Regions from separate parts of the Homo sapiens genome. Here regions 2, 3, 4 and 5 are each linked to region 1. The links come from fine-mapping of genetic effects on gene expression. A gene starts in region 1. Each other region holds a variant in brackets. All regions are shown on one strand. Distances are from middle to middle.

What was found. PIP is the estimated chance that this variant, and not a neighbour inherited with it, causes the effect.
Region 2: its variant is the best candidate, but not a certain one, in a credible set for the expression of F13A1 in nasal epithelium (TOPMed, PIP 0.76).
Region 3: its variant is the best candidate, but not a certain one, in a credible set for the expression of F13A1 in whole blood (INTERVAL, PIP 0.79).
Region 4: its variant is the best candidate, but not a certain one, in a credible set for the expression of F13A1 in whole blood (INTERVAL, PIP 0.73).
Region 5: its variant is the best candidate, but not a certain one, in a credible set for the expression of F13A1 in whole blood (TOPMed, PIP 0.55).

What each region holds. Positions count from the first base shown.
Region 1 is chr6:6,317,618-6,324,038 of GRCh38, forward strand. It overlaps F13A1 (coagulation factor XIII A chain), which reads right to left and starts at 3,045. Exons shown (of 15, transcript NM_000129.4): 1 at 2,970-3,045; 2 at 918-1,065. The coding sequence starts at 1,047. All of the region lies in intron 1 of LOC124901253 (a long non-coding RNA gene), which reads left to right.
Region 2 is chr6:6,226,945-6,231,944 of GRCh38, forward strand. The region is part of intron 6 of F13A1 (coagulation factor XIII A chain); the gene reads right to left. Among named protein-coding and RNA genes, the nearest start is that of MIR7853, 60 kb to the left of the region's middle. The variant G/A (reference allele first, on the strand shown) is at 3,030.
Region 3 is chr6:6,390,995-6,397,415 of GRCh38, forward strand. All of the region lies in intron 4 of LY86-AS1 (LY86 antisense RNA 1), which reads right to left. Among named protein-coding and RNA genes, the nearest start is that of F13A1, 74 kb to the left of the region's middle. RefSeq lists enhancers at 310-359, 1,308-1,477, 1,608-1,807. The variant T/C (reference allele first, on the strand shown) is at 3,328.
Region 4 is chr6:6,132,961-6,139,381 of GRCh38, forward strand. No RefSeq gene overlaps it. Among named protein-coding and RNA genes, the nearest start is that of MIR5683, 33 kb to the right of the region's middle. The variant A/G (reference allele first, on the strand shown) is at 3,606.
Region 5 is chr6:6,380,970-6,387,390 of GRCh38, forward strand. All of the region lies in intron 4 of LY86-AS1 (LY86 antisense RNA 1), which reads right to left. Among named protein-coding and RNA genes, the nearest start is that of F13A1, 64 kb to the left of the region's middle. The variant A/G (reference allele first, on the strand shown) is at 3,596.

The DNA of each region.
Region 1 (6,421 bases):
TCAATCTGGGCTTTCAGGCATTGGTCTCCTTCTAATGAGGGGAATCGACCACACAGCTCCAGCATGACCATGCTCACCTATCCCAGCAAATAGGTGTTTATCCCCAGTGAAACCCAGCACAGAACACCCTTAGGAGTAAAATTAGATTTTGGTGCATGAATGTTATTGACAAAAAAGACTCCCTGCTCAATGCCACTCGGGGACATGAGTCTGAATGTCCCTGCCATGGCCCAGGGGAATGATGTCTGTATCACCAAACCAGTGCTGGCACCTGGACCTTGTCACCACTGACAGGGCTGAGAGGAGGTCAGCTGCCGGCTGCTGTACCCGGAACAGGTTTCTAGGGATCAGGCAGAGGCAAGAGGCTGGGGAAGCAGCTTGCCTTGCCAGCTCACCAGGCTGCTCTGGAGAGAAATAGAGGGCTTCTATCTCTATTACTGTCAGAGTCTGGCACTTCTCCCCGGCTCTGAAATTCACAGCAATGGATGGAGGAGGGAGGAGGGAGAAGGAAGGAGGTGCAAGCCAGACAATCAAAACAGCCACAATATTTTGGAAGTGGAATATTCCAGCTAGAGAAAATTCTCTAAAGCATTGAGCAGTAGGGCTGGAAGAGGCCCTAGCTAATCCAGCACTCTGGTTTTGTAGAGGAAATAGTTGAGAGGCAGAAAGACAAAGCAACTTCTCTGAGGTTACAAGGTCAGTAAGGGGCAGAACTGGGACAAGGCTCTGGGTCTTCGGTGCTTTCACCACTTAAAAGAAAGCTTTTGCTTTCTTCCTTTATAAAACCAGAGATTGGCAGGGGGCTTCCTTTTGTGGGAACCCCAGTGGAGACAGAGGATGTTTACCTGCAGGGAAGAGGGGCCAGGGCCCGGCTGTGCCTGGACCCAGAGTGGTGGGGAAGGGGGGTATGCTCATACCTTGCAGGTTGACGCCCCGGGGCACCACGCCCTGAAGCTCCACTGTGGGCAGGTCATCTTCCGCTGCATTAGAGTTATTGGGTGGAACTGCTCTTCTGCCTCCAAAGGCGGTCCTGGAAGTTTCTGACATTTTTGACTTTACAAGGTCCTTCAGAAAAAAAAAAAAAAGAAGACAACAGAAAAGGCATGTAAAGTGAGTAACATTTGAGACAAGGATTCCAAAATAGAGAAACAGATATATCTGTGTGTGATAGCACTTGAGCAACACATTTTGCCGTTTGCATAAATAAAAACTGAGAAGTGGCAGCAAGGATTAGTCTAATGATGGAATACAGTTCCCCAAGGATCTTGGGGAGATTTTTGTATGTGTCAAAACATATGGAAAGCAGAAGAAAAGGGGCTTATTCAAAGAAATTTAAAAATTAAAAGATTTTTGGAGACCCAGATTCCCCCACCCTCCATAATCCTACAGCAGCATCTTCGCAAGAAATGTTTCCTGTTATATGCATGTGCTGTATCTATGTTCATTTCATACAGATTTATGAGATTATAAGTCACTTTTAAGAATAAACGCACACAACCATGTCCAGACAAATGTTGTCTTCTAAAGCGTTTACATTTGCAATTTAATTCAACCAATATTTATTGAGGGCCTATGACATGCCAGGCTGTGATCTAGGTACATGGGATACATCAGAGAACAAAACAGAATGTTTGCTCTGATAGATTATAGTCTGATAGGGTTAGGGTGGAGCCCAAGAAGAGCCATAAGTAAATCCACTTAGGGGTGAGGAGGTAGGAACTGCTTTGGAAATTGAGCCACATGGAGGAGGATAAGGAGGTGGAGAGGTTGGGCATGCAATTTTCAATAGGGCTATCAATAGGCTTAAGAAGTCAGGGTTGCCAACATTTCCCATTCCCCAAGCCTGCTTCCCCTTCCCTTGGAGCTTGTGCAGGCACTGAGCCAGTTTAAACAACACACACCTGACGGTCAGTGCCCAGTAAGTACTTGTTGACCAAATGACCAAATGAAGGGGGACTTTGTTTCTGGGCCCAGTGAAGGTTCCCCCTTGATCCCCTGGATTACCCAGTCATGACTCCTGGAGACTTGGCTATTTTCAAAAACCAGGCACACCCCCAAGAGGTGAAGAGTCCCCATTATAGAGGCCACCAGAGTAGAGAGATGGTTCCAGAGACATGTGGAGCACTAACAACATGCTGGAGAAAAGACAACCACGCCTAAGGTGTCTGGTCTGAGAAGGAGACAGGAGTGTTTGGATGCATAAGGTGTGAATGGGTATCCATAAGTATAGATAAATATATTTACAGTCATTGGTGAGCTGACGGGGGAAGGGAGGGAGAAGAGCGAAAAAGGGTTAATGATAGGGAGAAGGCTGCGAGAGCCATCCTCTAGTGAGAAATACCGAAGGTAGGCTGCGGCATTGCCAGGGGTGCAGAACAGTGTGGCGCGCTGTCGGGAGACACAGTGCTAAGGGGGAGAAGGGGGGAGCCCCAGGTGCACGCCTGGCTGGGTGAGTGCGGCGGGCAGGAGCCCTCGCTTCTGGGCGGGTCTAAGGAGGAGAAGTGGCTCGAGTTCAGCTCCAAATTGGGACGGAGGCAGGCGATGCGCAGGAGTGGGGAGGCGCGCAGGAGTGGGGAGCCAAGCCGGCGGGGTTCCAGTCTAGCAGGCTGTTCTCACTTGGCCCCACTCCCTCCACCTTTTGTGTTCCAGCTCCATAATCTGCTCCCTGAGGAAAGGGGGCTCGTCCCTTGGGGAAGCACCTCCAACTCCCCCATCCCCATTTGGTGGCATTCTAAGCAAGCAACGGCTTCGGGAGAGCTGCCTCGAGAGCCTGAGAGAAGTCCCGCTTAGAAGCTGGGCTGGGCAGGTGCGGAGTTGGGGGCGGGAAGCCAGGATTGGGCAAGTGGAGCTGCCTGTGACCGGCGCCACAGGGCCCAGAGCAAGCCGCTTGCTGGTTCAACCAGGAAACCGAGGTGCAGAAGGTGGACGCAGCGGGCCCTGGCTCATAGGGTGCAGGGTCGGTGGCTTACCTGCAGGCGCTCCCCTCCAGAGGTGCCCTCGCGTGGGCTTGCTCTGTGCGCCTCGGGGACTTCCTCAAACGGACTCGGGAAAGACAAGACAGTTGGCTCTTAAATAACTTCCTAAGAGGAGCCCTCACCCTCCTCCCCTGTCCCACAGGGTTTTCTCCTCCCCCTTCTCCACAGCTGGAGCCAGTAGGGGAGCTCAGAGGATTTTCTATTTACTTCATCTGGCCTGTTATCCCGGCAGGTGCGCCCTTCTCTCCCACTTGCCCCTCTGACTCCCAATTTCCCATTCCCACTTCTCCTCCCCATCCCCATCCCTAGATCTGCCCTCCCCACCGCAACCAGTTGCTGGGAGTACCAGGCAAGGGGCCCTGCAGTGCCAGGAAGTCCCCACCCGTCCCCTTTGGTCAGAGGGTCTGGGAGGGTTTCCTTTACAAAGGAATGCTTTTGCCTGGCAGGTCAGCTGCTACTGTGGCTTGGCAGGAGGGGGGTCTGCCCTCCCACAGACAGGTCACACAGACAGTTGTGACCATGCATGCAGTGAGAGCAACGTGTCCCTCCTGTGCAAATAAGGCATGGTCTGCATTCCTGAATCATCCCAGAGCCACAGCCACCGCCTAACCACAAGACTTCCTGCAGGAATGGGATGCCTAGCCCCAAGGAAGATGAGTAAACATCTTTAATAATGCCATGCAGATTAGAAAATAACACTTGGTTTTCTCTGAAAATCATTTTAGTGCATGTTCAAAAATTAGAAAATTTTCCCCCTAAAATTTTAATTTTTTTCTTTTACTCTTTCTTTCTTTCTTTCTTTCATCTTTCTATCTTTCAGATGAAGTCTTGCTCTGTTGCAAAGGCTGGAGTGCAACCTCCACCTCCCGGGTTCAAGTGATTCTTCTGCCTCAGCCTCCCAAGTAGCTGGAACTACAGGTGCATGCCACCATGCCCGCCTAATTTTTGTATTTTTAGTAGAGATGGGGCTTTACCATGTTGGCCAGGCTGGTCTCGAACTTCTGACCTCAGGTGATCCACCCTCCTTGGCTTCCCAAAGTGTTGGGATTACAGGCGTGAGCCACCGCACCCAGTCAAACATGGCTATTTCTAACCTTCTTTACTGTCTTCAAATTTCTGACCCTGCCACTCAATCTCCCAATGTTATAAAGAAGAAAAAAAAAGATGCCATTGGTTAGAAATTCTCTCAATTTTCTGCTACCAATCTATGAACCTGCCTGCAACCTTATCTATCTTTTCCTCTTTCTTCTTGTTACTGAAGTTGGAAAGGTCCCTCCTCCCTCTGCATCTCCAAACCAGGCTTCTGCGTTGCCTTGTTCTCCGGGGCTTTGCTGTGACTCTTACGTACTCTTCCTCTTGCAGCTTCAAGCTCCTGCTTGCTAATAGTGGGTCTTCTCAGCATTCATGCAATTTCAGGTCTCTTCAGTATTTTTTTAAAAACCTCCCCCAACCTATGTCCCCACTCCTGCTGTTACTCCTCCTCTCCTCCCCTTCATCACTAAGTATCTGCCATCTGGCTTCCGCCTCATCATTCTACTGAAAGTGGAGGTCACGGTCTCCAAGGCCTGTGCTCAGGCCAAAAGACAGGATTCAGTTCTTATTTACCTGACCTTTTGGAAGCATTGAACTCTGTCTTTGAAGGTATTTTTCCTAGGCCTCCTTGACATTGAACACTCTGTGGTTTCCTCCAGTGCAGCGCAATATTCCTTGATTGTCTGAGGAACTCCCATAGTTTTCAAATTCCATCTATATCCTGACACCTCCCAAATCTGGGTCTTTAGCCAAGATCTTTTCCAGAATTGCAGATTCCCGTATCTAAGTGCCTACTGGCTATCCTCATTTGTCACATCCCAGTGACAACACACGCTCATCATGTCTAACATGAGATGTATCACTTTCCTGGAAAACCTGGTGCATCTCAGGAGTTCCCTACCTCAATGAATACCATCACTTTGCACGCAGGTGGTACACCAGACACATGGGCATCATTCTTGAGGCTTCCTTGTTTCTCTCCCTCAATCATCAAATCCGATCCTTGAGCAAATATTTTCTATCCTACCTCTTAAACAGCCCTTGAATCTACCCGTGTATGTACCCCTTTCCAGTCCATTCTCTACAGTGCAGTCAGAATGAGCATTTCAGGGCTAAAATCCGAAATCAAATTATTTGCACAAAGCCCTTATATGGCTACTTCTCTTTGCTTTTTGGATAAATTGCAAGCTGAAACTGACAAGGCCTATACAAGCTGGACCCTGCCTCTAGCACTGCTCTTTCCCTCAGCATCCATACAATTTGAGGTCTCCAGTATTTTTAAAAAACCTTCCCCCAACACCAATCTACCCTCCCTGCCTTCCACTGTTGTTTCTCCTCTCCTCCTCTTCATCACTAAGCTTCTGCCATTTGGCTTCCATCTTTCTTCCCTATCATCTTCCTCTGCCATCTTTCTTCCCTGCCCAGTCTCCCTCCACTGACTCCCCAGTTGTCTTGCAAGGAGTTTGCCTTGTTGTAGTGCTCCTCACACTGCATGATCATTTTCTGTTTCCTTGGCTGTACCTGCACTAGAGTACAAAAAGGTAGGGACTCCAGCCAGAGTTCCCTGGAGAGAGGCTGCTGACCACTTAACTATCCAAAGGCCGTCTTTGCCACATCCCTTGCTGAGTGCTAGAGAAAGACCCTAAAGATGTCTAGCACTGCTTCCCCTCAGCATTCATACAATTTCAGGTCTCCTCAGTATTTTTAAACCCTCCCCCAATCCTTAACGATCATATTCTGGTAGTTCTCCTGGCAAACATCAAATCTGAGTGTCTAGAATTCCAAGATACCCTCATCCATGTGGGGTTGGAGGATGAGCAGCCACCCTTGCACCCTTCAGATGAGGTTACGCAGATGCCAGGTACCCCTGGGACTTGGGGTTGAGTTGTGCATTCAGAACAGGATTGTCACCCTCACAACCACCTCCACGGTGTCACTTTTGGCCTTAGACTAATTATTGGCTTTGTGAACATACACACACAGTGGTTGGCTTTCTGACTCCCCCAAACCACTAACCTCAAGAGCATCATAAATGCAATGGCTTTCCTTGTGCTAAACAAAGTCGATAAAAATGTGTCTAAGCCACCAAGCCCTAGAATGCGGTTGAAGCCCATTCATTTTACAGGGTATTCCTCATGGTTATATGGCTGAGACATCAGAACAAAGGTTTCTGGTCACACAGTGAATCTTGAACTGTGCTAGGGATGCAACTTCCACAGGTGCATAGGCTCTGAGGTCCTTAAGGATGGGATGGTGTCTTTTATTTCTGAATGCCCCCTGCCTGGCATGGAAGTGGAGCCATGTAAATATTTAAGGCATGTAACAGACGGGGTTCATCCAGGAAAACAAAAACCACTTTAGGTCTTTCTAAAAGAAGGAATTTAAGGCAGGGGATTGGTTACACAGGTGAGAGA
Region 2 (5,000 bases), 91 kb before region 1:
GAGGGAGATGACAGGCAAACTGGCCAGAAAAGGCCATCTACATAGTGGAAACAGTTTTAATAAATGTGTAGTGTCATGAAACAATATGGCAGGCTCTGGGACCTTCTAGGAGCTCTGCATGGGTATTATGTAAGTAGGCAATACCGAACGAAATAAAAAAAATACTAGAAGAAAACATGCAAGATGTGCAAGCATCTTTTACTGTGAATGACAAAGCCTTCACTGAAATTTGAGATTTACTCTAGCACTGAGTGGTATTTCCCAAGGAGGGTCCCTTCTGGGGAGTGTTGTCTAGAAGATCACTATTCAATTTGGTTTAGACATGCTATCTTCCCCCTTTAACTCTGTGTCCAGTCAGGTTAAAGTGAAGAAGAACTTTATGAACCACACAGTTAATTTGTTCAATGTAGGAAAAAATGAACTCTTTGGGGGTCTCTAAAAGACCTTGCTCAGCTAATTGCAAACTCATGCCTTTGATATAAATTTTGACTTTAGCTTATAGAGTCATGAAATGACTGGAGTGCAGCAGGCTTTAGCCAAACATTATGGCTATATTAAAGATCAGTACTTCTCCTTGCAGTTGGATTGATTATTTAAAAATCTGTATCCATTATCGTGAAGATTGAAGAATGCCTTGGTAGGCTATGATGTGGTTTGGTCTTTGTGGGTAGGTAGGTTTAGCTTTGAACTCACATTATCATTCCCTTATCACTGAGACATAAAATAGGCTCTATGAATTTCAGAGGTAAAGGCTCCTAAACTGTGGTCCTGATAACTGATTTTCAAACAGATAGCCATTAATTACAAGGGCTATTTATAGCATAGGGCTGAACTCAATCAGCTAAGGGGAAGAGTAAGGAAAAAAAGCTCTGTCCTCTACAGACCTTTTAATTGTTAATGCTGAGCTGTTCCCCTGTTGCTAGATAAATCACAACCCTCATTTATTAGCATTTGGGCAGATTAGCTACTGTTTTCTAATTAGAACATTGATTTCTAGGGAGCTCAGGCCATGAAAGAGGTAAGTTTTTAGTGACAGATGTAAAGGGTTAAAATAATATCTCCCCTCATAAGCAACAAGATATGTTTGGAGGACATGTTTGTCATTTTTCATGCCACAGTTGGCTGTTTTAACACCCTCTCATGATCTCAGGGTTTGACCAGTGGCAGAATAAAGTGTCTTGGTCTTGAGTCACTGGTGGTCAAGTAGACAATACAAGTCCAGGACTACGTACAGGAGGCATTATTCAACTTCATTAAGGCTACACTAAATTGCCCTCCCATAATACCTACAAAATTAGAAAAAAATTTCAAAAACCCCTAAAAGTCATTATCAGCATAATGCAATAAACTTCAAAACATGGTCCCAACAAAACATGAGGACTATGGAGTAAAGCAGAGAGGCAACATGGCTCAGCTCCTAACCTTAACCATCTTACCAGCTAGTCAACAAAAACCTGAGATTTCTAATTTATATTTTAAATTCTAGAAAGTAATAAATATAATCAAAATGCTGATCTTTTTGGCCAGGCATGTAATCCCAGCCCTTTGAGAGGATGAGGCAGATAGATTGCTTGAGGTCAGGAATTCAAGACCAGCCTGGCCAACATGGTGAAACCCCATCTCTACTAAAAATACAAAAACTAGCTGGGCATAGTGGCACATGCCTGTAGTCCCCGCTACTCTGGAGGCTGAGGCAGGAGAATCGCTTGAACCGGGGAGGCAGAGGTTGCAGTGAGCTGATTGTACCACTGCACTCCAGCCTGGGCAACAGAGTGAGATCCTGTCTCAAAAAAAAAAAAAAAAAAAAAAGCTGATCTTTTTATTGTTCTGAACAGAATGGTGGAAACACCTGCTGTGGAGAAACGAGTGAAAAAGTATCTGCACCTTAAAAGAGGTAGAGATTCTGGAACACAATTGGGAAATAATACAAGCTGAGCGTATCCCCCAATGGAACTGAGATATGCCTCCAGTTGTGGGGGTGGGTTCTGGAGTGACAGATGTAGGAGAATCTTAAGGGAAAGAGCAGACCCTAAGCATGATACCAAAGATTGTTCATCTTCTAATACTGTAGTCCTCACTCCAATCTCTTGCAGAGTACTGAAGAGTAGATAGAATGTGGTACATTGGCCTCAAATTGTAGTTCAGAAGTGAGATCAAACTAACCTTAGATTGAGAAGAATTTCATTTATTACAGCAAATAGAACGTCTAGAGACAAGAATGATGCAAGTTTGAGCATAAATATAGGGAAAAGAAACTGCATGCAGAGGAAGAGACAGAAAGAGAGAGAGGGAGAGATCATGAAAAAATATACATAGAAGAAAACGAAATTAAGGAGCATAAGTCATTTTTCTCACAACCTTTTAGGAGATCACAGACCAAGGCAACAAATTGAGGACCAAATCATACCATTACAGAGCTAATAATAAATTATAAACTGCAAGAAACAGAATACATATTATTAAAAATAAAAATTAATGACATAGAAGAAAACTTGAGATATCAAAGAAAATACTAATAAAAAACCAAAGTGATGAATTATTTAGAGAGATTCTAATAGTACCATAGTTATGGAAAACAAAGATGATACAACATAAGGATGATTAGTGTCCTTAAAATAGAGAACCCAAGGATTTGGATCATCATGGTGGATGGGAGGCAGGACTGGATTGCAGCTCTGGACAGAGCAGCATGTGGAGGCTCGTGCTGTAAATTTTAGATCCAGGTCGACTGCAAGAACAAACCAGCAATCCTGAGAGGACCACAGACTCTCTGAAGGAAGCAGACTGCTTCTGCAGGACCCGAGAGACCCCCCCAAATACTGTGAGTGTCCCAACTATGCAAGTGGGAAAGGGAGACCCTCCTCTCCCGAACACAAACCTCCACTGGAGAAGCTGAAGGTCTGTTTGTGGGAGAAGTTTCCGACTTCACCTGGTGCTGGGTCAACTTGGAGAGCTGAGGGAAATACAGGGGTAGAGGAAGCAGCAGAAAGGCCCTGGGAGCTTGCTAGGTCCCCTAGCAGGCCATCCCT[G/A]CCTGGCACCACAGAGATCCATCAGAAAGGTGGACAGAGGAGCAGAGGATAAAACTCCACATGGAGAAGGAAATCTCTAGCTGAACTTTGTAGCAATTTGAATGGGGTGAGAAGCCTCCTGGCCAAAACTTGGGGGAGGGTGCAAATCCGGTGTGCAGACTCCACAGGTGTGGAAGAACCAAACCCTTTTCTTTTGCAGCTGGGAGGTGGGTAGACCGGGTCAGGTTTTCAAGGCCATCTTGCCCTCTGCCTGGAAATGGACTTAGGGCTGTTGAGGGGGGCACGGTGGGAGTGAGACTGGCCCTTTGGTTTGCATGGCAGCTGGGTGACTCCTGTGACTGCCAGCTTCCCCCAACTTCCCTGACAACCTGCATGACTCAGCAGAGGCAGCCATAATCCTCTTAGGTACACAGCTCCAGTGACCTAGAAATCTCACCCCCATCCCCCACAGCAGCTGCAGCAAGACCTGCCCAAGGAGAGTCTGACCTCAGACACGCCTAGCCCAGCCCCCAGTTGATGGTCCTTTCCTACCTACCCTGCTAGTGGAAGACAAAGGGCATATAATCTTGGGAGTTCTGGGGCCCTGCCCACCACTGGTTCCTCCCCATACTACCACAGCTACTGCTCTCTGGAAAGCACCACCTCCTGGCAGGGAGCCAACCAGCACAAAAATAGAGCATTAAACACCAAAGCTAAGAACCCTAACAGTGTCCATTGTACCCCCTGCCACCTCCACCGGAATAGGCGCTATTCCGGTGGCTGAGAGGGACCCAGAGATGGCTCACATCACAGGATTCTGTGCAGACAATGCCCAGTGTCACTCCAGAGCTGGGTAGACTTGCTGGGTGGGTAGACCCAGAAGAGAGACAATCACTGCAATTTGGCTCACAGGAAGCCACATCCATAGGAAAAGGGGGAGAGTACTACATCAAGGGAACATCCCATGGGACAAAATAATCTGAACAACAGCCTTCAGCCCTAGACCTTCCCTCTGACAGAGCCTACCCAGATGAGAAGGAACTGTAATATGACAAAACAAGGCTCTTCAACACCCCCCAAAAATCACACTAGTTCACCAGCAATGGATCCAAACAAAGAAGAAATCCCTGATTTACCTGAAAAAGAATTAAGGAGGTTAGTTATTAAGCCAAACAGGGAGGGACCAGAGAAAAGTGAAGCCCAATGCAAGGAAATCCAAAGAATAATACAAGAAGTGAAGGGAGAAATATTCAAGGAAATAGATAGCTTAAAGAAAAAACAAGCAAAAATTCAGGAAACTTTGCACACACTTTTACGAATGCGAAATGCTCTGGAAAGTCTCAGCAATAGAATTGAACATGTAGAAGAAAAAAATTCAGAGCTCAAAGACAAGTTCTTTGAATTAACCCAGTCCAAAAAGACAAAGGAAAAGGAATAAGAAAATATGAACAAAGCCACCAAGAAGTCTGGGATTATGTTAAATGACCAAAGCTAAGAATAATCGGTGTTCCTGAGGAAGAAGAGAATTCTGAAAGCTTGGAAAATGTATTTGGGGTAATAATTGAGGAATACTTCCCCGGCCTTGCTAGAGACCTAGACATCCAAATACAAGAAGCACAAACAACACCCAGGAAATTCATTGCAGAAAGATCTTTGCCTAGGCACATTGTCATTAGGTTATCCAAAGTTAAGACAAAGAAAAGAATCTTAAGAGCTGTGAGACAGAAGCATCAGGTAACCTATAAAAGAAAACCTATCAGATGAACAGCAAATTTCTCAGCAGAAACCCTACAATCTAGAAGGGATTGGAACCCTATCTTCAGCCTCTTCAAACAAAACAATTATCAGCCAAGAATTTTGTATCCAGCGAAACTAAGCATCATATATGAAAGAAAGATACAGCCTTTTTCAGACAAACAAATGCTGAGATAATTCACCATTACCAAGCCACCACTACAAGAACTGCTAAAAGGAGCTCTAAATCTTGAAGCA
Region 3 (6,421 bases), 73 kb after region 1:
TGGCCCCTCCCACACTTGGAGAGTGAGGGCTCCGGGGAGGGTGGCTCTACTTCACTGCAGAGAAAATGCAGTCGGTGAGAGAAAGAGATACACTGAGGCTCCAGAGAGTGTAAAACAAGCATCTCGTCACAAAACAGAGAGGAAACTAAGTCTGGGATTTATTGCTGAGTCCCTTCTTCTGATAAAGAAGCCAGAGGAGCATCAACATTTTCCTTGGAGTCGGGAGTCCTTGGCACCCTCTCTCTGCAGAGTGAGTTCCATCTGAAAACTCTCCTTGGCTGCTCATGCCAATCTGCCTTTCTTCCAAACAAGGACATGAAATCACTCTCTCTAGAACGCAGATTCCATAAGGCTCCAGAAAGAGACTAGGTTTCATTTTAGCCATCAAGGCCCTCTGGCCCCATGCGCTGTTAGCTGGGTGGCCCCTCTTGGCAGAATGACTTCAAAGGGTATTTCCCACCTAAAAGGCCAAATATGTTTTTATAGTTACACCCTCACAGCTTCATTCTTCAACTCAGTGTCTCAGTTCCCTTTTTGCTGATTTCAAATAATGTCCTAGCAGCTTAGACTTATTGCTTTCCCCCTTTCTGTTCAGGTTTTGGGGAAATATTATATTATATATATATTATATATTAATATATATAATAAATAAATATATATATATATATATCATATATATGTTAAAAGAATCAGACTGTAAGCCATTGCCAGTGCACCCCTCAATTATCGGTGAGTCTCTTTCTTAGGAGTCAGCAGTCACTCAGCTCCGTGATACTGCATCTGTGTTGGGCTACACATAAGACAATGATCTACTCCTGGTGTGTTTTGTTTCCACAAATGACTGCACATATTTCCAAATTTTTCAATTGCTTAAGAATAATTGCAGCCCCCAAAGGCCAGTTGTTTGCAAGTCATTTCCCTTGGCATAGACAATCTAATCCATGATCCATATTGGATGCAACTCTCCTGATGTCCTCGACACCCAGAATTTGCCAATACATGTTTTTGAAATTAAGAAGAATTAATACATGAGGCTGGGCTTCTCTAGTCCTGTCTTAATCATGGGTAAAATTCAGCATGGGCTGTATTCCTTTCAGCAATGCCCACGCCATGCCAGCTACTGGACTTGGAGAACTTGAGGAGTGAAGACAACAGGCAATTATCATACTGTAAATGTGTACTGTGTTAGGGATGGTATAGGCAAGACTCAAATCAGCACCTTGGCACCATCAGAGCTAGTTTAGCTGTTTATAGCTCAGACTCATTTTGGTTGGTCAGAAGAGACTCCGACCTAGCTGGTGGGGGCAGTGGGACAGTTGATAAGCCCTGGAGGATTTGTCAACACCCATGGGACCAACAGAGGCAACAAACTCAAACTTTTCCAGTGAGGATGAAAGCCACACAACCCTGTCACTGTATCTTTGGGCTGACCCTCTGACCTCTTAGATGCTGAATCCACCCCTGCCTTCCTGTTCCTGCCACTGCTGTCTTCCTCACCAGGCCCTTCATGCTTGCCTCCCATCAACTGTCTCAGGTCCTGATGCCTGGCAGCCACCCAGACCCAGTATAGCGTATTTTGTCCTCGGGGCTTTTCAGAAGCCTTGAGCTTCTTGACAAACTTTCGCTCCAGTTGGAGGGAGGTCATGTGGTACAGAGAAGGGGCCTTGGAGTGCAGGATGAGAGTCTGAATTGTAGCCCTACCTATGAGAACCGTGGGAACAGGGGCAGGTCACGTGGCATTCTCATCAGTAAACTGAAGATGATAACATTTGTCCCAAAGGAGATCACATGAGATGATAGTGTAAAAACAGTGTGTAAGCCACCACAAGTCTTACCCAAATGTGAGGGTCTCACCTAAGCCCTTTGGAGACTGAAGCTGCACTGAAGCCCTATGCAGACTGAAGCTCACACCTTTGCAGCATCCTGTTTCAGTTCTGCAAATCACCCAATGACTGAGAGGTTTTCAAAACTGGCAAACTCCTATTGCCCATGGGAGATCTCCATGGGGATTCCCGCAGATATCCCTTGAGTCTTTCTGGCTAACTGCTACCTATTTTTCCCCCTCCTGTCTCCTGGATTCAAGGCTGAGTTTGATGCTCCTCCTTGGCTTGCTGACGGCACCCAGAGCATGCCTCTATTCAAGCACAGGCGTGGCACAGATTTTCTGATCTGTTTCCTCTATTCAAGCACATGCGTGGCATGGATTTTCTGATCTGTTTCCCTCTGTAAATCCCTTCGTGGTGGAGACTGTATCTTTCACTACTAGGTGAAAGATACCTTTCACATGTTAGGTCCTCAGTAAATATTTCTTGAACAAATGAATGAATGAAATTCTCACTCATCTCGAAAGTGTACATTCTCTGCTTTCTCTGAGCAGCCTTTCAACACAGTATGACCACAATAATTCTATTTTCTCAGTGGAATTGCACACCTTGAGGGTAGACACTGTCCTGGCAATGGCTACTATATAATAAGATGCAGGGAAGGAATTGCAGGCACCACTGGTTTCCCTCGCATGCTCTGTTATTACAGTACTCCTTTATTACAAGCTTGGGTTTTGTGTTTGCAGATGCAGTCACGTGGCAGAACCAAATCTCATAAATATATAGGTAACGTGGTAACCAAAAGACTCCATTTTGGAATGGCTGGAGTCTCTGAGACCTCTCTAGATGTAGTATAATGTAATGATTAAATGCCTGGGCTTTGGAGTCGATTAGATAGGCTCAAATCTCACTTCATAAACTATGTAATCTTAGGCAATTTCCTTAACTTTGTTGCCTCATTTTTCTCATCTTTATAAGCTTTGTGCTCCTCACATACTTGTTCTGAGAATTAAAGAAGATAATACATATTAAGCAGTTAGCACAGTCCCTGGCACATAGGAATTATCCAATATCTACCATATCTACCAGTTCTTTCTTTCATCATTGTTATTATTTTCATCATTAGGAAGTCATCTCTTTCTTCCTTTTGGTGGCATTCCCTGGCACCTCTCTCCCAGTTTTAAGGATCTCAAGGGCAGCATATTCCACAAGACTTTTAGTACCTCTGGTAGCATTTGTGGATTTGTGTGTCTGTGGATGTAGATATTTGGAAAAAAAAATGTCAAAACTCTTTACCCTCAACAAACCAAGAGTGTTTCAACAAGTATTCAATGACATCTCAGTCTCTTATCAACAAAACAATCTCAAATATTTATTCTTTTCCCCCCCGCTGATGTCTGGTCACCTCCTTCCCCTCCAGAACCACATGTGCCCTGCAGGAGGACAGCATTCTGCCATCTAGAAAGTTTCTATGCATTTCTCCTGCCTTTCTGAACAGGCCCAC[T/C]GCCATGGAAAGAGAAAAATGTACTCCATTCTCCTGATTTCCTAATGCTGTGGACATGTGGGTCAGGGAGAGTAATTCCTATTTCACTTTTCCTTTCTGTGATTAAACAGCCAGGCCATGGTGCATGACCAAAGTTAAGCAGCTCTCCTCACCTGTCTCCAAAACAAGTCTGCTTACAGATGTGGGCCACATCTTGACCTCTTAACATCAACCACAGAGCAAGACCTGTACCCTAGAGATGCTCAGAAATGTTTGGTGAGTGAAAATGATTGGGTGAAGGAGTAAACAATTAAGAAAGCCAGCAGGATGAGTTGCATTAGCCATGAATTGCACTCGTACTGGATATCAGGGAGCAAACACAGGCTTCTCTGGAAAAAATGCTCTTTCTTTCACTCTCTATTATAACAAGAAGAAGAAGAAGAGGAAGAGGAAGAGGAAGAGGAAAAATGGTTGGAGTAGAAAAGGAGAAAGCAGATAAAGAGGAGGAGGAAAAAATAGAAAGGGATTAGACAATTAAACACGTTTTGCAATTCCATTTCTATGTGTATATTGCTTTACAGTTTTCAAGGTGTCTTCAGTTTCATTTAACACAATATATTTTTATTAAACAACTACATAACATTTGTAACAATTGGCTACAAATTGAATAGGACACAGTTTCTGCCATCAATTCAAAATGATCCTGAAAAGTATAAAGGCCACTTATTTAGATTATGCCTTGTTTTATGATGAGCAAACTGGAGCTTGCTCGGAATGGAAGATTACGAATATTACTTGGCCAAGAGCACAGAGCTTATCAGTGAGGGGATTGGACCTAGAATTCGAGGTCATATTCTCTACCCATACAAGGCTGCATCCTTTATCCTTTATTTAGACCAAGCAATATTCAAGCACTTGCAAACCATATGAATGTTCCAAATATGTATACTGGACACCAAGACTTTATGCACATCCAGTATCTCATTTGTTGTGAACTTTGTTTTTATAATATAATTTACTGCCAAAAATCTGAAAAGTGAGGATTTGATGATATTTATAATCCACATCTACACAATTAAGAATTAACAGCATTCATCTCCAGAATGTAATAAATATTAAATCAAGCTTTTATATGTGGCTAGTAGCTATTTGCCTATTACATTAGTTAGGCAAACTCATTTCAATACTAACATTTAGATTTAAACTATAAACTCTAATCATATTAAAAAGCAACACTGTGCCAAATCTTGAACTGATAGCAAATACTGATTCATATACCAAAATCAGAAGCTAAATTCCACGGAACCACCAGTGAACTGTTTTGAGCATGAATTAAATAGGAAAATATTGGACTTGAAAATTAAAATAATGTCCACAACTAGGTGTCAATCATTCCAACATTCTATTCATTTTAGCCCCTGTAATTGAGCAGGCAAGCTCTCAACAGGAGGATGGGCACCTGCTCACATAGTGGTAAGTACTGGCCAACCTTGCAGCCAAGTCCACCAGAATTAACAAACTTGACCTTGTTATTCAGTAACCAATATGGATTTTAAAAAGAAAGAAAAAACAATGAAAAACATTCATGATTTAAATGGGAACCATTTTGTAAAGAACAACTGCAAAAGCAAATTTTACGTTTCACTGTGTTGCAATCCAAAGTAGCTGAGAGTACTGCTCTGCCACTTCTATTTTTGTAATGTCACACGCCCACAGAGAGTTCACAGGCACGTAGCTGGAGGAGAGACTGGTTCTCCCTTTTGTACCACTACCCTTCGGAGACAGGCATTGGAATTGCTTCTGCTCAGGAAGGCTAATAAACATAGTAACCAGAAAAAAGAAAAAAAAAAAGAACCCAAAGCAATCAATCAATCAATTAGATTAATGGATTAATTTTCACTTAGGCCAGAATTTGAGTTATTTGTTGAGGACAATGCTGGGGAGAGTTAGGGAATAAATCAAGAAACAGGTGGATTTGAGAGGGAAGGCAAACTGGGTGGGGTTAGTGGAGTGACCTGCTATATTCGTTGGCAAAAGCCTTCTGATCATTTTCTTTCTCCCACTTCAAACAGGCTTCTGTCACCATCACTCCACTGAAAGTGCTTTTGCCAGGATCCCAATTTGAAAAGTGAAATTTCCTAATTAAAGGAAGTGGTTGACCCTGCAGCGTGCATATAGATGTGATCCATCGTCGTTCAGGTATACAACATGACTGCCGCCTCTCACACTTAGGCAGGGACCAAGGCTGATAGAATTGACCCTGTTACAGAAAAACTATCCCATCATATGAAGAAGGCACCAGTAAGCTATTTTCTTTCATTCATTCATCAGTTCATTATTTATTCAACAAACATTTGTGTCCATAACATCCAGTCTAGTTCTAAGCGATAGCGATGTGACTAAGCATTTGAATAAGACTGAGGTGATACTTGCTCTTATGGGGCTCACATTACAGTAAGCCAATAAAAGAATAAATGAACAACATAATTTCAGATAGAGATAAGCACAAAGAGCAACATGGGACAGGGTAATGTGGACGAGATCTGTCTTATATTGCATATCAGGAAAGGCCTTCTTGAGGATGCCATATTTAGTAACAAGAAGAACTCCTGCATGCTCTGTCTAAACCACCACCTGCCCACACCCCAGTAGCAACACTCCCAGAGTTGCCCATTCTCCCTCTCGTAGCAGCACATTTTCCATCTCTGCCAAATCATTCCTGTCTGTGTGCAATTTACCTACAGTATCTCTCAATTGTTAAAAAATACCCTCCTCTTGCCTTCCCTCCCCTTTCAGATTCCACCCCATTTCATTTCTCTACTCTCCTTCACTGCAGAAATCTACTAAAAAGACTTTCATCCTTTTTCTCCACCTCTCCTTCCCTTCTTTCTTGAACCTGCTTCAAACAGACCTCTTTCCACCACTCCAATGAAACTGCTCTGGTCAAGTTCTCACTGACCATCAGGTGGCCAAATCCTGTGGTCATTTTTCTGTTCTCACCTTGTCATTAGTGCTCAGTCCCTATCCCCTGGCACTCACCACTCCCTTATACACGGAGGTTTGTACTGTAGCCGTCTGGGACTCTCGAAGCAAGCATGGCCAGCTACAGATGGGC
Region 4 (6,421 bases), 180 kb before region 1:
TTTTTCTGTATATTTATCTCTAAATTTTTAAAACCTGGCCTCATCCCTGAACTCCAATCCCAGTAACAAAAGGAGCTCTGAGTGACAGAATCTTTCCTGCAGAGTTGTTTAAAGCTACTTTGGTGGTAGTATGGGAAAGAGAAAAGGACTGTTTCTGATTTTCTGATTATTGTCTTCTGCACGGGAAAATGGGAGGTAGGCTGCTGGGAAACTTGGTTAGGATAATTCAGGTTAGGATGATTTATTTCCAGAGGGGAGCAGATAGACAATGGGATATGTTCAAATGAGCTATGCTCAATAGTGAAGTTCTGATTCTCATTTTATCTTGACATCTGTTGTCTTTGATATTATTTGGGCTTGTATGCTGAGGACCCAGTATGGTGAAAAAGGAAACAAAATGCCTGAAGAAAAAGGGCTTTGGCATTTTGGGAGCATAAAAAAATTATTGAATGGGGGTAACCAATAACAGGAAGAGCCTGAACTATGGAGTACCAGGGAGAGTAACAGTTTTTCCCTACTCCATTAGATGACCATTAGGATAATTCATTCATTCAATACATGCTTATTCTGTACCAGGTAGCAATGTATACACCAGAACTGCAGAGCTCCTATAAAAAGTGGATGCTTGCCTAGATAGGCTCTGTTTTAGTCATTTGGGACTGTAGTCATTATTGGCAAAGGAAATCATCATGATGGGTCAGCCAGATACTACAATTCCTTTCAACCTTTGGTAGAAATTGTCAGGGAAGCCATGCCAGGCCACAACAGAGGTAAAAGAGATAATCAACTTTAGGCATAGAGGGTATGATTTTCCATGTGTTAACATGTGGTCTGCCATCCAATCTCTGTTTTATTTACTTATTTTTATGCACACTGAAGCAAATTCCAATTGATATGGGCAAATATTACTAATGAAGAGTGTTGGTTTTCCAAGTCCTTTTCCAAACTCTATCTATAATGTGCTACTAAAGTGAGAACAGCAGTGCCTCCCTCTCTGGCATCCAGACATTGTTTTTTGAGCTAGGGAACTTAAGCCTTTGACTAGGAGGTCAAAGCAGCTCAGTTGAGTCTGGTCAGATGGTGTCCTGTCAGGAAGTAAATCTGGAAGCTTGATGTTAAAGAGGGAAAAGCCCCAAGAAAATGAAATAGGACTCAATACATATTCATGGACAGCTTCTTCAGCCAAGGAAGAAGAACAATATGAAACAAATTAAAAAAAATTTGTATAGCCAGACCCTGTGGCTTTATCTTGGCAATTCTAAGAATAATTTTCTTCTGTTACTGTTATTGAAGCATAACTAAGATGGTCCCCAATGATCCCTGCCTCCTAATATCCATGTCCTTGTATAGTTCCCAACCTTTGACTGTGGGCTGGACTCACTGACTCACTTTTAGTACATGGAATACAACAAAAATGATGGGCTGTCACTTCTGAGATTAGGCTACAAAAAGATTTTGGCTTCTCTCTTGCCTGCCCTATCTTGCTCTCTTGATTTCTCACCATGATGAAGCCAAATGTCAAGTTGTGAGTTGCCCTGGAGAGATACTCGCATGACAAAAAACTAAGAGTGACCTCCCACCAGCAGCTAGCAAAGAACCAAGGCCCTCAGTCTACCAGTCTGTGTGGAACCTGTGAACAAGCTTGAAAGCAGATCATGTCCCACTCAATCCTTCAGATAAGACTACATCTCTGGCTAGCTGATGGCAGCCTGGTGAGCAAACATGAGCCAGAGGACCCAGCTAAGTCATGCCTGGATTCCTGACCTACAAAATTATGAGCTATAAATATTGTTTCAAGCAGCTAAGTTTTGGGGTAATATGTCACAAGAGCAATAAATAATGAATATAATAATAAATGTGTATTTCTTTTCCTTTTTCTTTGAGATGGAGTCTCACTCTGTTGCCCAGGCTGGAGTGCAGTGGCACGATATCAGCTCACTGCAACCTCTGCCTCGTGGGTTCAGGCAATTCTCCTGCCTCAGTTTCTTGAGCAGCTGGGATTACAGGCACATACTACCACGCCTGGCCAATTTTTGTATTTTTAGTAGAGACGGGGTTGCACTGTGTTGGCCAGGCTGGTCTAGAACTCCTGACCTCAGGTAATCCCCCCGACTTGGCCTCCCAACATGCTGAGATTATGGGCGTGAGCCACCGCACCCAGCCTAAATGTCTATTTCAATGAAGTTTTACAACACCCAGATCAAGAAATGGAATACTTCTGGTTTCCCAGAAGCTCTCTTGTGTCCCTTGAGTCCCTCTTCCAAGGGTAACCACCATCCTGACTTCTAACCTATAGATGAGTTTTGCCTATTTTTGAATTCTAAATAAATAGAATCATGTTATGACATGTACTATTTAGTGTCTGGTTTCTTTATTTCAACGTTAGGCTGCAGTTCTTTCATCTTGTAATATTTTATATAGTATTGTATTTTATGGAGCTATTTATCTTATTATATATTTTTAGTATTCTCATTGCTGTGTTACAATTAATTGTAAATATGCCACGGTTTATTTGTCCATTCTATTTTAGCATATTTCTATTGGAAATATGCCTGGGAGTAAGATTACTGGGTCATAGCATTTGTTCAGATTTAGCAGATAATGCTAAATAGATTGCCAAAGGGGTTGCACCAATTTACACTTTACCAGCAGTGTCTGAGACCAACTTTTATTTCACTATGTCAGCAGGCTTCTTTGCTGCCTCTCAGTTTAGCACAAGACAAATTATCCCATGGTATTTTAAAAGCATACTTTATTGGTAATACTACTACTAATAATAAGAAGAATAACAGTGATCATAATCTTTTGGATATCTAATTGCCTGATATGTTAATTTTCAAAAAGCAAGATACAGTCAGTACTTCATTATATTTTATATTTTATCTGTATTTAGAATGCATGGATACCATGGTTATCTTTAAATTAGACTTTTAGGAGATACCCAGGATTAAAGAAAAGAAATGGTAGAAGTAGAATGCTTTTATATTTAGATGATTTAAACGAACTTGGGCTTTTCTCTTTTTTTAAGCTTAACTTTCCCAGTTAATAGCCTTCATTTTCTGGTTAGTATTGCTAGTTGAAGATATCACTGAAGCCTATTGTTTTTCATCAGAGAGACAGGTTTTATTGTATTATATCTATTTTTCAATTTTGCATCAGTAATAATATTTTGTTGATCTATATGAGTTTTTAGCATTGTGTACTCAATAAAGATAATTGGAATATTACTGAAGATACCCAGCATTTCGTTTTAATGATAAGCATAAAAGGCAGATTCCTTTATTTGAGCCATAATTTTTGAATTCATGGTTATAGCCAAGACGACAGAATCATATGAGCTTAGCCTGTGTCTATAATAAAAGTAATGTATATAAAAGCAAATTTGGAAGTAGCAGGCCAATACATGGGTGCTTCAGCCTCGATAGGCTTGGTTTGGATAGGGAGATGCTTAATGGTTGTGTTTACTTGTCACCTGAAAGTCCCTGGAAAATAGAGATGTTCAAATTTGAGGTGTGGGTAACATTAGCCATATGGGCCTACCACCTGAAACTGTAAAGAAACAGTGAATAATAAAATGTCATCAAAAGTAGGAGAATAAGAATGTC[A/G]TTGTGGCAGGAAAACATTCAAAAACCACATTAAATGCTATGGTTCACAATAGAAGGACATCCTCTATGAAGTTTAGGAATCTTTCTTCTGAGGAAAAAGAAATGGAATGGCAAATCAGATGCCCTTCCCCTTCCTGAGGGCTGTGTCATACCGATTGATGGGAAAGAACAATGAAGATTTACCAGAGAGAAGCACTCCCAGTGTATTCTGTCAGGGACCTCAGGAGACCACCTAGACTTGGGCCTTCCGTGGGTCTTGGGCAGTGCGTGCTCTGATGAAAGGGTTTACACAAAAACATGGGGTCTCAGCTGTGGCATAAATTGTCCTTGTAGAAAGAGTCTGGGCAGGAGAATGGCTGGTCATTGTGACCTCCGGTGAGGGCTGAGGACAAATTGCTAGAAGGCAAGATGGATCTCGGGTCACTTCTGTCAGTCATGCCAAAGTGCAACTGACTTCCTACACCCATGGCTGGTTTCTGACTCGCCTTTATCAGAAACACTTGGTTCCAGGCCATTATTATGTTTACTAATTCCAGGGGCTGCAGATTTTGGATTTAGGTATAACCAATATAAAAGTAAATTACTTTATTCTATTTTGTTTCACATAGTTTGAGCTATATCAGTATAAATCTATGTGCACATCAAGACATTTTTAAATATCCAAGAAGAAAAAAATAGAACGGGAGCTTATGACCAGACTGGCCATTCCTGAGTACTTCAGTTCCCAGGTAGGCTGGGTTCGTGGGGCTGCTAGTGAATCTGGTATCTCTTCAAGATTCTCCACAGGAAGGCCTCATTTCCTAGGTTTTTGTGAAAAAGAAATGTCATCTTTCATCACTGTGCTCTCTCTCTCATCTTCAAGTTATTCCTAATGGCATCTAACCAAATCTTGGTGGAGATAAGGATGGTGAAAGGCCCATAAAACCACAATTTAGCAGGAAGAGTTAAAGGAAATGGCAATGTTTAAACTATTATGCTTGGGAGTACACATTAGGTCTCCTGACATATGTGGAGGCTTCTGAGAGGCAGCATGCTGCATATCTGTACATAGTCTTCAGAAAGAACAGATAAAGTTCAAAAACACTAAGCATTTCCTCGAAGCAAAAAATAGCATTAACCAGTAAATTTCTCTCTCTCTCCTGAGATTGTTAAGCTTAGCGTTCTGGTAATGTTTTACTGCATTACCAATGACCTCAAACTTAGTGGCTTAAAATAACAGTTAACAACAACGGATTGCACATTTTAAAATAGCTTGAAGTGGGGACTTGAAATATTCCCATCACATGAAAATGATGAATGCTCATGGTGATGGATACCCTAAACTTCTTGACTTGATCATTATACATTCTATGCATATAACCCCATAAATATATATGTATATTATATATCAATCAAAAATTAAAAACCAACTATTTAATCCTATCTCATCATTTGGTGGAACAGGAATTTGGGCAAGGCTGGGCAGGGTGATTCTTAAGTGACATTGACTGAGGTCACTTGGTGGTGTTCAGGTGGTGGATGGGCTGATCTGGAGCGCCCAGGATGGCCTCATTATCAGGTCTGGTGCCTTGGCGGAGGTCGCTGGAAGGCTGAGCTCAGAGCAGGGTTGAAGTGTGTATACCCGTGGCTTCTCCAGCATGGGAGTCTCAGAGTAGTTGAGCCTTTAGGCAGAAGCTCAGGGCTTCTACGAAGAGGATTTCAAGAGAAAATAAGTGGAAACTGCCAGTTTTCCAAGGCTTGGAGCTGAGAACTGGCAGCATTGCTTTTATCACATTCTTTCAAAGCAGTCACGGCCCACCTAAAATCAAGGGCAGGAGAGGGAATGTGGTCCCCATTTCTCAATGGAAAGAGTGACAATCATTTTATGGTCATTTAAAATCTGCCACCTTTATAACAAATCCTAAATCTGGTGGTAACATATTTTTCATATTGTACCTTCCCACTGTCTAAACTTGCTCAAATCAGAAAAGAGAGGAAAGAATCCTCTTCGTTTATAGGTACATGCTGTTTACTAATAGGAAATGCTCATTAGGACCCCTTATGTTAGTTTTGGGACTATTGAAACGTTACTTAGGTAATTATGTAAGTCCTAGAACAATGATTAGTGTGAAAATGAATGGGAGTTCATGAGTAGTATCAACAGCTAGTTTACCAAGTATCTTTTAAAAATGTTCATTGTCTTTAGAGCTAGAAAATGCTGTGTATAATTCCTGGCAATTGAGGTGAACACAGTTTCCCTGTCCCTTTTCCCGATGCAACTGAGGCGCTTTGTTTCTCATTTATTTGTTTGTTTCGACAAAGTAATTTCTTACAGACACACTAAAAGGCTTTTTGTTTGTTTCATTCTTATGTAGAAAGGAAGGTGCTTGGGAAGGCAAACTTGAGTCTGAATGAGTTGGGGTGGTGAGAACAGAAGGACGAACTTGCCTTAAGGTGTGAAGGAATGTCTCTAGAAGCAGTTCATTTCTTTTCGATACTGGGTTGGAGAGAATTTTGCCTCAAAGACAGACATAAGCATGACCTGAGGGGCAAGATTCTGGGTCTTCAGCGCTACCTGCTCATGGTGATTTTACTTGGCTGCCCTAGAAGGAACTTGTCTGTCTACACTTCTATAGTTTCTGACATAGACAGCTCTCTGTCTCTACATGCTATCTCTCCCACTTTATCCACTTGAGCCTCGTATGTCTCATTTCCCTTCCTTGAATCCAACTGTGGCCACACCCCCATTCTGACACCTTCTTCACTGGCCTGAGTTAGGGCATTCCACCCCCTACTTTCTTGGCCCTGTCACTCCTTGAGCCACGCATAACTTTTAG
Region 5 (6,421 bases), 63 kb after region 1:
CAACACCTTGACCTTGGACTTCCAGCTTCCAGAACTGTGAGAAATACATTTATGTTGTTTAAGCTGCCCAGTCTGGTATTTTGTGTGTTGCAAATATGTCCCCTTTCTATCAAGGAAGATCTGCATTGATGCTCTGATCCCAAATGTATGTGCAACATGAGAGAAACTGAAGATTTGTCTGGAAGACCCAGACTTGGATCCAAATGGTGCAGTTGGAATAACTTCCTTCAGGAAGATAATCCATACTGATGTGGTTTATGGCTGACCTTTAACCACAACCTCATGGCATGTCTTCGTTCTCTTGAAACCTGCAGCAGAACAAGCCTCATGCTGGAAAAGCCATGGCTGACATGGGCTTCTCCCCTTTGCTAAGATTCACGAAGACCCAGAAAATTCTACAAGTATTTACTGAGCACTCATCATGCACTGGGAGTGGTGCAAGACACAAGATAAATAAAACTGGGGCCTCCTGCCCCTGGAGAACTTACAAGTGAAGGATGATGGACATACAAGCAGCTCCACTAAGCCAGATGGTGTTTTGCTCAAGAAACTAAATGCTATGGAAGTTTTATCTGTGAGGAATTATATTTCATTACGAATAAAAGAAGTCCTAGGGAAAAGTGGCTCAAACAAGTAAGGACTTTATTTTTCCTATACAACTAGAATTCCAGAAGTTCATGGTTGCTGGTGTTGCTTCAAGGCTTCAAAGATGTTAGGGTCAAGGTCTTTGCAACAACTGTTTTCCCCCAGCTTTATTAAGATGTAATTGACCAATAAAAATTGTATACATTGACAGTATACAATGTGAGATCTCCACCTATGCATACACAGTGAAATGGTTAAATCAAGGTGTTTAACATCTCCATCACCTCCATACTTATTTTTATGTGGTGAGGACATTTAGCATCTGCAACAATCTTGATGGTCCCTTGTAGTTTCAAAGTGGTTACTCTAGCCACTGTGTCACATTGTGTTTTAAGGAGATAAAAGAAGGAAGGAGGAAAAGAGCAAAAGGCAGACCAATGCCAGCTGCATCTGCAGCCCATTTTAGAGGCTTTCTCCTTGAATCCCACCCACCTACTTCCATTAACATCTCACTGGCCAGACCAGTGCTCCATAACCTCTGGGCCTAGAGAGAGGCTGAGAAATGCATTTTTTTTTCACCTAGGCACTTTGCTGCTCATCCCTCCAACAAGAATGAGAAGGAGAAGTAGAGGGAGAATAGATTTGGGGTAGGCAAAACAAACAGAGAGCAAGGAGAGGTGTGTTCATCTGCAATGGCTCATTCCATGTTGTTAGAGGATGTGAGGTGTGAGCTGAGTCCAGAGGCAAGCAGTGTGGAAAGAGCAGTCTATGCAGAGGGGTCATCACCGCAAAGACAGAAGGTTCAAGACCACAGATCACATAAGAACCTCCGAGGCTAGGGCTTAGCATGTATGGGCAGTGAGAGAAAGTACCAGAAGATCAGTTAGAACATGCAGATGGGGGCTAACTGGTGAGTTTACTAGTTTCCTAGCGCTGCCATAACAAATACCATAGCCTGGGTGCCTTAAATACCAGATTGATTTCCTCACAGTTCTGCAGGCTAGAACTCCAAAGTCAAGGTGTCAGCAGGGTTGCTTTCTCCTGAGGCCTCTCCCCTTGGCTTGCACGAAGCTGTCTATCACTGCATCCTCACATGGTCACAGATGTATGCACACATCTCTCTGCATGTCCAAGTTTCCTCTTCTTATAAGGATACCAGCGACATTGGATCAGGGTCCACCCTAATGGCCTCAGTGTAACTTAATCACCATTTTAAAGGTCCTATCTTCAAATATGGTTGCATTCTGAGGTATTGGGGGTTAGGCCTTCGACACAGGAATTTGGGGGTGGGAGGGCAAGACATGACCAGAATTCAACCCATAACAGGGAGAATCTTAAAATCTAGGCCAAGGAGTTTGTGTTTTGTTCTGTATGCAAGAGGAAGACAGCAGACGTTCTGAGCGGGGAGAAACATTATTAGAGTTATTATTTTTTAGCAGGCTAGTCCTTTGTTCCCATTGTGTAGGATGCATTAGCAGCACGGAAACCCAAGGGAAACCATGGCTTTAGTGAGGGCAAGAGGGAATGATGATCTGAATTAGGGCAGTAGCAACAGAAATGCAAATAGGAAATGCAGTAGGAGATAAATCCAAGAGACACTGTGGGGGTAGAATAACCAGGATTTGCTGACTAATTTGATATCATGGTGCACATGAGGGAGGAGTTGGAGGCAATGCTGAGGTTCCTGAGGCCAGGCAGTGGAGTGTGTGGGGGTGGTATTCACTGACATGCTGTGAAGTAGAGGAGGCCAAGTTCAGTTTAGGACATGACCATGCTTATAAGATGTGCATATGACACTAGGATGGAGCGATCAAAAAAGCAGCTGAAAATGTGGGTCCAGAGCTTGGGCATCACCAAAAGCCTTATTTTAAACAACAGGTTGGCCTAAGCAAACTTTTGAGTAGGAAAATTTGTCCCTGATGTCTTTCCACCCCCTGTCACATTCTCTCTGCTATCCTTGGGTCCTAGGCCCACATGCTCTCAAACTGCCCTTCCTCCTCCTCCTGAATGCAAACGCCCCTGCACTCCATCAAGCTCCAAGTGTTCCTAGTCACGGAGAAGGAAGAGAGAATGATAATCTCCCGAAGGAAAGCCTGGTGCTTTTCAGGCAGTGTCAGGGGGAAGAGAGGAATCTCAGCCTGAGGCTGGGAGGCATTTTCACAGTCAATGTCTTTTCCTGCTGCTCCTGAAATCACGCTATGCCACTCAGCCTTCTCAGAGGACTCTGAACCCAGAAATCAGACTTTGACCATCTGCTTTTGGCTGCTTCTGAGAAAAAAGGCCTTAAACCTTCAGATATGTACTTGAAAATAAAGAATGCATACCATGGATTTGTGTGTGTCAAATGGGTTTGGTTCATATTTATAAACTTGACTTTCCTGAAGCAATAGATTGCCAAGCAGCCCTGTGCCCTGGGGAAAGATCACTGATGCAACCATGCCTCTAACAACATTTAATCTGAGTTACCTTTCTGTTTGCAGCCGAAGAATTCTCTAGAATGGCTTTCTTATTAGGATTAGGCATGGGTCAATGTCTGTCAAATTTTAGGTGGCACTAAAACTCCGTAAGAAAATGGATACCTTTCCATTTCAAGCATGCCAAGCCCTGGTCTTTGGTGAAGAAATAGACACATTCTCACCCAAATACAAATTCTGTTTCCCACGCACCTTCTCTGGGCTGTATTTCCTTTGGGTAGTGTGGCGCGGATCAGCCCTTGGGCTGCCTCCCAATTCTGGAATCTATTATTGCAGCAGAAAGGCCAGACTGCAGCTTCTTCGAGTTTTCTCATCGTTCTCACCCTGCCTCAAGAATATAGGTCATGGCATTTGTGGATGCACCTGTGGGACACAGTCACCTATATTCTCCTGTGGGCGCCCCCAAGGGATGGGCTTAGTTGAGATCTGTTGTCCCTGTGCAGGAACCAGCTCTGAGCTTGGGCAGAGAGATATGTCTTACACAGAGAAGAAGGGAGAGGAGAAGCAGTAAAAGAGAACAAGGCTGGAGTCAGCTG[A/G]GGGAGACTCAGTATAATTGATTGTTGCTGCCCAGGGCCTCTTTGGCCTTCACCCCCTGGGAGGAAAAGGTGTTATGCACCCCTCAGGTGCACAGGGCAACCCAGATGCAACCCTGAGGACTATGAAGAAGGAGACAGATGTAGCTCTGCACCTGTTTCTTTTTCTCTCACAAACCGCATTTCTGACATTCTTCACCCCACAGCCAATGGGAGTGATGGCTCCTTTTATCACTTGCAGTCTGACCTGCTGGCTGAGGATCTGAACTTGCAAGCTCATTTCTTTTCAGCTGTGGGTTGTTTGCAGTGAAACGATACCAACTGCCCGCTGAATTTCGGGTGGTCGTCGGCCACGGGGCTTTCAGGATGCTCCCCCTAGCCAGCCAGCTCAGAGTCTCAGTCCCCTTTTTGCTGACTTCAAATAATGTTCTAGCAGCTTGGAATCATTGCTTTCCCCCTTTCTGTTCAGGTTTGGGTGAGGCATTTATGTGTAGACAGCCCGACCCCTATTAGTTAGAATGAGAAAATACTAGGGCTGTGAAGCTCAGATTTGATGCTAAATTAATTCACCAAGTTCTTGCTTTTCTTATGGATAACACGATTCTGGAAAAAAAGATCATTGCATTCTCAACGTCTGCTCTGTCCAATACAGGAGCAACTAGCCTCATGTAACAATTTAAATTTGAATTAATTAAAATTACATAAAATTAAAATTCAATTCTTCAGTCACACTGGCCACATTTCAAGTACCCAATGGCCACATGTGGCTAGCTAGCAGCTACCATGTTGAAGAAGCAGACGTAGAACATTTCATCTTCACAGAAAGTTCTATCAGACAGCACTGATCCAACAATTCCATTTCTGACCTTTGACTATGAAATGCAACTGCTTCTTGGCCCTATGACCCTTATACCAAACACTTGGATTTTGTCTGATAACAACAGATCACTGGTGGCAGGATACGTTTAATGTTCATTATTGTTATATTGCTGTTATCATGATGATTTATAATTATAGAATACCTGCCAGGTTTTTAACTAATTTCTTTCCTTATTGTTTCATGGATCTGATTTGCTAGTGTGAATTAATAGCATTTATGGAATTTCCAAGGTTACTCTCCTTCTCCAACAGCATCCCCGTTGCTGACATTGATTCATTTATTCTTCGTGCATTCACTAGATGCTTCTGAAGGGTGTGTTCCCCACGCTTAGATGGGGGTGACATTTGTGAATTCACCTGTGGGACACAGTCACCTATACTGTCGTGTGAAGTACAGACACTGTAACATTCTATTTCAGAGCTGGGGCTCTGGTGTCCACTATGCAGCTTTGCCACTTTCTATCTGTGTCCTTCATTTTCTTATCTGTAAAATAAGGATAATAAACATATGGAGCTCTAGAGATTATGAAGATTAAATGAGCTAAAACATGCACAGTTCTTACACAGAAGGTGTTGTCTACTAGATAGTCTAACATGTTATTTTAATAATCAGCCTGTTCATTTTCATTATTGTTGATATGGGTTGATATTTTAAGTCCAATTCTTTTCTGGCCAATCATTCTACAAAAGAAATGAGGATCCAGAACGGGGATTGTGGTTAGTGTGAATATGTAGCTTCTTCCCAGAACAACCATTTCGACAGTTCCTGCAGCGTGGTGAAATTTCCTGTTCTTTGTTTTGCTGCTTTCTCTCCATGGATAAAAACTATGAGTAAGCTGAATAGTGGTAGCAAGCAAGCAAATAAGAAATTAGATTCTGAAAATGCTTGTTCTTCTTTTACAGAAGAACAGAATCTGTTTTCAGTGCCTGGAGCGGAGCTTATTTATTTATATATATATTTATTTATTTATTTTTCTAAAGAACAGAGCCTGTTCTAGAATACCCACTCAGCATGGCATTCACATCTTTTCTGAGTGACTTCATTGGAAGAAGAATAAAATCAATAATGAAAAATAACATCATCTTTGTTTCCTGAGAGCACTTGAATTTAGTAGAAATTGAAGGAATTCAAAGCACTTAAAGAATTAGATTATTTCTTGAACCTACATCATCTATGGCAGGAAGTCAGTGTGAGCAGGAAGCGTTTACATTTAGGAAATGCTTTGGTGCATCAAGGTCACCTTCACTTCTACAGCCTGGCTTCTGCTCCACCTGTCTGGGTGAAGTGACTCTTTCTGTGACTTTCCCAGGAGCCACACAGTTCGTTCTCCCTGTTTGACATTGCTAACCCCCTTAATCTTCCTTGAAAATTTATTTCCAATATTCACTGCTTTGTTTCTGGGCCTGGCTTGTAGAAGTATCTACATTGAAGAGGCTTTCCTATTGAAATGTAATAGTGTCTCAGATAAAGACCTTGATGGCATGATATTTACATTTTTGGATACTGTGAAGCTGAGAAAATTACCTACAGTGATAGCTTACACAATGAAGACAATAAGAATCAGCAGATTGGAACAATGGATCAACTGCAAAATCTTCATCTTTGGTGTCTCTGAAACAACACCCAGATTGAGGATAGGGAAAAAGAGAACTGTGTTACAAGCAACGTAAGATGTCTTCTGTTTTTTGATAATAGCCACCCTGAGAGGTATGAGGTGATATCTTGTGGTTTTGATTTACATTTCTCTGATGATTAGTGAATTAATTTTTTTTTTTTTTTTGAGATGGAGTCTCGCTCTGTCACCCAGGCTGGAGTGTGATGGTGCAATATCTCAGATCACTACAACCTCTGCCTCTGGGGTTCAAGCGATTCTCCTGCCTCAGACTCCTGAGTAGCTGGGATTACAGGTGCCTGCCACCACGCCCGGCTTATTTTTGTATTTTTAGTAG